2 linked regions of the Homo sapiens genome follow. The protein of the gene in region 1 interacts with the protein of each later gene in a pairwise test. Each region holds a gene or a part of one and is shown in the gene's direction. Other genes may lie near its edges.

The links.
Region 2: the proteins of KRT76 (region 1) and WASHC1 interact in a two-hybrid assay, tested with the Homo sapiens proteins (one large-scale study listed by BioGRID).

Annotation. Positions count from the first base shown.
Region 1 is NC_000012.12:52,775,202-52,779,110, reverse strand, and holds the start of KRT76 (keratin, type II cytoskeletal 2 oral), read left to right. Parts: upstream 1-1,765; 5' UTR 1,766-1,819; coding exon 1,820-2,419; intron 2,420-3,508; coding exon 3,509-3,723; intron 3,724-3,909. UniProt on the Homo sapiens protein: Probably contributes to terminal cornification.
Region 2 is NC_000009.12:13,775-16,805, reverse strand, and holds the end of WASHC1 (WASH complex subunit 1), read left to right. Parts: coding exon 1-88; intron 89-744; coding exon 745-897; intron 898-1,656; coding exon 1,657-1,725; intron 1,726-1,865; coding exon 1,866-1,999; 3' UTR 2,000-2,293; downstream 2,294-3,031. UniProt on the Homo sapiens protein: Acts as a component of the WASH core complex that functions as a nucleation-promoting factor (NPF) at the surface of endosomes, where it recruits and activates the Arp2/3 complex to induce actin polymerization, playing a key role in the fission of tubules that serve as transport intermediates during endosome sorting.

The DNA of each region.
Region 1 (3,909 bases):
GCCTAAAAGTTGGTGGATAGTGGATCTGGGATCTGACGCCAGATAAGCTGCAGAGCAGAGAGCTGAGAATTAGCTGCAAAGCTCTTGAAGTCACTCAACTCAAGGTGGTTCCAAGGTTCTCAGACCAATTCTCTCCCCTAGACTGGACTGTTCAGAAACCAGAAACTCAGAAAGACAGAGCGCCCACTGCCAGTTTGGCTGGAATTCTGGAGATAGACCCCCCACCAATTTCTCAGGGAGTCTAGAATCAGTGCCACCTGCTCCTGTCATATGTGTGAAATCTCCTATGCAGACGACAACCTGAGGATTTGGTCTTGCCCTGTGTGGTGTGTTTGGGTGCGGAGGTGGGTTGGATGGGGTTTGGGGTCTGCTGAGCTCTTGGCAGTGACAGCAGTAACTCATCATGTGTCATTCGTTCTGCCATCAGGGGTCCTCCATCCTCCTATTCCTGGCCCATATGGTGTAGCCATGGTCTAGACCAGGGTTTCCCAGACTTTCCGCATTATAAGAATGACCTGGAGGGCTTGTTAAAAATGCAAACTCTCAACCCTTTCCTCTGAAGATTTTCATTCATAGGGCTGGGGTGGGAGCTGGTTTTAGGTATTTGCATTCTTAGACATCAGTCATCAGTCAGTTAACACGTTTGTGCTGTGCTTACCCTATGCTAGGAGCTGGACATTTAGGATAATTTAGAATGGGCAGGACTCAAGCCTTGCCCTCAAGAAGCTCAGGGACCGGAGGGGTATGGACAAGTAAGCAGGTAAGTATACTTTATGTCAGGTTCACGATGGGAAAAGTACAGGGTATGGTGGGAAGACAAGGAGGGGCATCTGACCCAGACCAGGGGGTAAAGCAGGGAGGGGATCCCCTCCAGAAGATCTGAGTTGGGGCCTAGACACAAGATACACTGTCCTCCTAAGATGAATGGGGTGCTTGAGCCGACTCTACCAGCCAGCTGGAGGGTTACCAGATTCTGTCTCCTCTTGCTTCTGGGTCCAGAAATTGCCTGCTGTCAGTCTAGGATGGTGGGGGGAGGGCTTGGTCTGAGGCTCTCCACAGTGCATGCCCCCTCTTCTTCCCAAACCTCATACTTGTTTGCTCCCTGTTCCAGGAGCTAGACGTGTTTACCTCCACTGTAATTTCTTCCCCATAAGTAGCATTTCTCAGCCCAAACTCCAGGTTTGCTGAGATGGATGCCTTTGGCTGAGGTGCTGGCAGAGCAGACTCTATGGGTCTGGGCCCCTCTCACTTCCGCTCCCACTCCAGGCCCTCTGAAGAGTTGGGAACAGGTGACATGCCACTGGAAGAAAAGGCCTAATGATGGCAGAGACGGGCGCAGCCACTGTGGGAGCCTGTGGACACTGTGGTGCTGCAGGGAGGGACCCAGCCCACTCAGAAGAGGTTGCCTGGTCCTCACCCCCCTGTGTCAGGGAGCTCATGGCTCCGGATCACCTGGTGTCTAAAGCTGCTTCCTCCTGCTGGATCAGGTGCTGCTTGGGTTCCCTGAAACCCTTGAGGACAGCACAAAAAGGGAGGGAGGAGAGCTCCAGCATTTTGTCAACTGAGGCAAGTTTAGGTGATTAAGCTAAGAAAGCAAAGCCACTCTGGCCCAGAGGATTATCTCTGAGGTGTGTTGGGAACCAAGAAGTAACTTAATGCCTACGAGGCAAACCAAACCCAAGATGATTCTCAACTAATTGCTCGCCTCTCCTTTTGCCAAGCCAAACTCCCTGTTATATAAAGGCCAGTCTCCTCTCTTGTCCCTATCCCTCTCAGCTCTTGCTAAGTGATCACTAGCTTGCCTCCAAGCTCTCTCACTATGAACAGACAAGTTTGCAAGAAATCCTTCAGTGGCAGGAGCCAGGGTTTCTCTGGCCGCTCTGCTGTGGTCTCCGGCAGCAGCAGGATGAGCTGTGTGGCCCGCTCTGGGGGAGCTGGTGGAGGGGCCTGTGGCTTCAGGAGCGGAGCAGGCAGCTTTGGCAGTCGCAGCCTCTACAACCTGGGCAGCAACAAGAGCATCTCCATCAGCGTGGCAGCTGGCAGCTCCCGGGCTGGAGGCTTTGGGGGAGGGCGGAGCAGCTGTGGCTTTGCAGGTGGCTATGGAGGTGGCTTTGGGGGCAGCTATGGTGGTGGCTTTGGTGGTGGCAGAGGAGTAGGTAGTGGTTTTGGAGGGGCTGGTGGCTTTGGTGGAGCTGGTGGCTTTGGTGGTCCTGGTGTATTTGGTGGGCCTGGCAGCTTTGGTGGTCCTGGTGGCTTTGGCCCTGGGGGCTTTCCTGGGGGAATTCAGGAAGTGATTGTAAACCAGAGTCTCCTGCAGCCCCTCAATGTGGAGATCGACCCCCAGATTGGGCAAGTAAAGGCCCAGGAGCGGGAACAGATCAAGACCCTCAACAACAAGTTTGCCTCCTTCATCGACAAGGTGAGGGCAAGGCCAAGAGGTGCTGTGGAGGGTTTGGGGTGCCCAGGGGTCGGTGTAGAAAGATGCCATGGGGACTTGTGAGACACAGGGCAGGGGCGCTTGGCTCTTGTCCTGGTGCTGTCTTGGTCCCTACAGGACAGTGATCATGCCCCTTTCACTTTTTGGGCCTTCTTTTTCCAGCTGTGAAATGGGGGGAAGAATTCCTGGTCCTGGTTTCCTGCTAAGAATGAGATGAGGGTAAATGAAGTGGGGGTCCAAACATGCTCTTAGCTTTTTGAAGAATGAGCCATTTTAGTCATGAAATTATTGCAGTTACTTTAATTTCTCCTGAAAAGCAATTGCTTGATAATCCAAAGTAGCTGGTAATCAAAACCTTGTGTTAGCACAGATCTTGAGGCTGCATCTAAATGAGGTGCATTGGCAGCTGCCTTACCTTCCAGATGATGCTGTGCTTCAGCCAATAATTAAACTGAGCTGTCCATGCTGGGGCAGAGGAGGGTGTTCTGGGTCTGTGTGGGACTGAGCCCAGGATCTGAAGTGAATTCTAGTTCAGCTGCAAGCTGAATAACTGAAAGGAGGTCTTCCTATGTGAAACTTCTAAAGAAATGTTAGACCTCATTGACTGTATTCACTGCCTTTATGGAGCTGAAAAAAGCTTACATCTAAAAAACAATGACAAACTTTATTTGTGCTTACCTCCTTCAGTGGTATTCTGAAGGATCCCTATAGACCCAGGACAGTCCTGGGTTTGATTCTTAGCTTTGTCACTCAGTAGACTTGTCACTTTGGGAAACTTAAACTCTTTGAGTCTCAGTTTCCTTATCTACAAAATGGGGATCACAGCAACTCCTTTATAGGTGGTTGTGAGGATTAAATGTGACGGAAATACATGAAAATAACAGGTAAGGCATAATCACTCAACAAATTCTAGCTCTCCCTTTGCTAAATCTTCATCCTTCCCAAATTAAAAAACAGGGGAAATTGTAGATTGAAGAACTGGGTTCCTTCTCCACAGTTCTACATTTGGGATGGGCAGCCCCACATGCCCAACTCAAGGGGCTGACTCCTTTTCTCCCCTCTTTCATGCAGGTGCGGTTCCTGGAACAGCAGAACAAGGTCCTGGAGACCAAGTGGGAACTGCTCCAGCAGCAGACCACAGGCTCAGGGCCCAGCAGCCTGGAGCCTTGTTTTGAATCCTACATCAGCTTCCTATGCAAGCAGCTAGATTCACTTCTAGGGGAGAGGGGGAACCTGGAGGGAGAGCTGAAAAGCATGCAGGACCTGGTGGAAGACTTCAAAAAGAAGTGAGGGCTCCTCCTGGGAAGTTTCCCCTTCTGGGGAATTAGCAGGGAGGTGTGGTCCTAATTTGGGATTTCAACTGTTCCCAACTGTGCCTTCAGTCAATACTCTGGGATGGATTTATTGAGTGAAACATGACAAAGCAGAAGGGGGTGAAAGGGTGGGGACTGAGACTCCCATGTGGCTATGAC
Region 2 (3,031 bases), on another chromosome or scaffold:
AGTGCACCCCCACTCCCACCCTCAACCGCGGCCCCTGTAGGCCAAGGCGCCAGGCAGGACGACAGCAGCAGCAGCGCATCTCCTTCAGGTGGGAGCAGCTCTTTGAGGCCACCTGATTTCTGGCGTGCTCAGTGCACTCGGGTGGATTTTCTGTGGGTTTGTTAAGTGGTCAGAAATTCTCAATTTTTTGAATAGTTTCCATTTCAAATATCTTGTTCTACTTGGTTCATAAAATAGTGGCTTTCAAACTGTAGAGCTCTGGACTTCTCACTTCTAGGGCAGAGGGAGCCTGAACAAGTGAGGCTCTGGGTTCCTCATTCCTAATTAAACCAATGGAAAGAAGGGGTCTAATAACAAACTACAGCAACACATTTTTCATTTCAGCTTCACTGCTGTATCTCCCAGTGTAACCCTAGCATCCAGAAGTGGCACAAAACCCCTCTGCTGGCTCATGTGTGCAACTGAGACTGTCAGAGCATGGCTAGCTCAGGGGTCCAGCTCTGCAGGGTGAGGGCTAGAGAGGAAGCAGGGAGTATCTGCACACAGGATGCCCGCGCTCAGGTGGTTGCCGAAGTCAGTGCCCGGGCCCCACACAGTCTCCAAAGGTCCGGCCTCCCCAGCGCGGGGCTCCTCGTTTGAGGGGAGGTGACTTCCCTCCCAGCAGGCTCTTGGACACAGTAAGCTTCCCCAGCCCTGCCTGAGCAGCCTTTCCTCCTTGCCCTGTTCCCCACCTCCCGGCTCCAGTCCAGGGAGCTCCCAGGGAAGTGGTCGACCCCTCCGGTGGCTGGGCCACTCTGCTAGAGTCCATCCGCCAAGCTGGGGGCATCGGCAAGGCCAAGCTGCGCAGCATGAAGGAGCGAAAGCTGGAGAAGCAGCAGCAGAAGGAGCAGGAGCAAGGTGAGCGGGCCCTGGAGCCTGCGGTTGGAGGGCCTTGGGCAAGATCGCCTCCTCCCCTCCAGCCCTGAGTCCACCGGGTGCTTTCTGCCCACCCCCTGCTCCTGCCAGCTGGCCCCTGCTTCCCCTAGGGCACATGCTGGAAGCCCTGGGCCGCCACCAGAGGTCCTCAGCCCTCCTGCCTGGGCTATGGCTCCTTCCTGGTTTGGGAGCCATAGTGGAGCTTTCCTCTCTAAGCTCACCCAGCTCAAACTGTGACAGGAGAATCTTCTTCGACTGCCAAGAGCGGTCCAAGGCAATGGTCAGCCACTGCAGCCTCCTGAGATATTTTTAGAGACTGGACCTGAGGCCTCTGGAGGCTACTGATGATGCCTGCTGTGAACGCAGACACTGGTGTGATGCGATGCCTGCGCCTGCAGCGGCAGTGCCCTGGGCACTATGGTTTTGAGCTTGTACCCAGCGCTGCTTTTGCCTTGCTCTGTGACCCCAGGCAAGCTGCCTCACCTCTCTGGGCCAGTTTCCCCATCGTACAGTGGTGCTGCACACCCTGGCCCTGTCCCCGAGGTGGCTGGGAGGTGGCTCCTCAAACAGCCACTTTCTCATCAGTGCCCGGTGCTGGGTCAGGCATCGACTGAGGCTCTGAGCTAACTAGGAAACACAGTGGCCTTGGAGGGCTGGGGAGTGTCATGGGGGTGGGGACAGGGAGCCACCGGTCGCATGTGACTGAACTCTTCACCCCAGTCTGTGGCTTTCCCGTTGCAGTGAGAGCCACGAGCCAAGGTGGGCACTTGATGTCGGATCTCTTCAACAAGCTGGTCATGAGGCGCAAGGGTAGGAGGCAGGGCCGCTGCCCACCCTGGGCCGGCACATTGTAATTCTGTCCTGCCTTTTTCTTCCTGTATTTAAGTCTCCGGGGGCTGGGGGAACCAGGGTTTCCCACCAACCACCCTCACTCAGCCTTTTCCCTCCAGGCATCTCTGGGAAAGGACCTGGGGCTGGTGAGGGGCCCGGAGGAGCCTTTGTCCGCGTGTCAGACTCCATCCCTCCTTTGCCGCCACCGCAGCAGCCACAGGCAGAGGAGGACGAGGACGACTGGGAATCGTAGGGGGCTCCATGACACCTTCCCCCCCAGACCCAGACTTGGGCCGTTGCTCTGACATGGACACAGCCAGGACAAGCTGCTCAGACCTGCTTCCCTGGGAGGGGGTGACGGAACCAGCAGTGTGTGGAGACCAGCTTCAAGGAGCGGAAGGCTGGCTTGAGGCCACACAGCTGGGGCGGGGACTTGTCTGCCTGTACTTCATGGGGGGACGGCTCCACCCAGCCTGCGCCACTGTGTTCTTAAGAGGCTTCCAGAGAAAACGGCACACCAATCAATAAAGAACTGAGCAGAAACCAACAGTGTGCTTTTAATAAAGGATCTCTAGCTGTGCAGGATGCAAACGTCTCGGGGTCAGTGACTGCCTCCTGCCCCTGTTGGTCCCTAGGCAGTGGGGGCAGAAGCTCCCAGCTGACTTGTTTCTCTGGGATGAGAGGGAGGAGAGAAGGGCAGTCAGCAGGGGCAGCTGTTGCAGATGGGAGGAATAGTTTCCCACAAAAAAGGTTTCAGTGACAGACACAGGGTCTCTAAAAATAGTCATGCTGAGAGCCTAATGGCCCTTGGCACAATTGCTGGTGTTGGGGTAGAAGATGTCTTGGAGTTTGCTCAAGTGGTTGAGAGGGAGGGAGGTGCCATCGACTTGGAGGAACTGGCACCAAGCCAGGGAGATAGAAATCCAGGCAAGGCTGTGGGGCAGGTTAGGGAGCAAGGCTGCAGGAGTGACTCAGGAAGAAGGTGGGGGAGGTGACAAGCCCCCAGGCAGGGGCCCTGTGGCCATGGGGATCTTTTTAAATTGAGACTAGGGGGTGAATAGTCCAGGGCAGCTAACTTTAGTTATTATAGAAAGGGCAGTAGCAGATGGGTCTGCTCCGTCTCCCTTCTAAGAAGGTGGGCAGGACAAATGGCAGCCTCCTGCAGAGGCCCAGTGAGAAGCCTGGCCCTCGGCCACACAGGATGGAAGACAGATTGGATTCCACAGAGGGGAGCTGCCCTGGGAAGATCTCACGGATGGCCAGGACCCACCATTTCTTCGGGGTT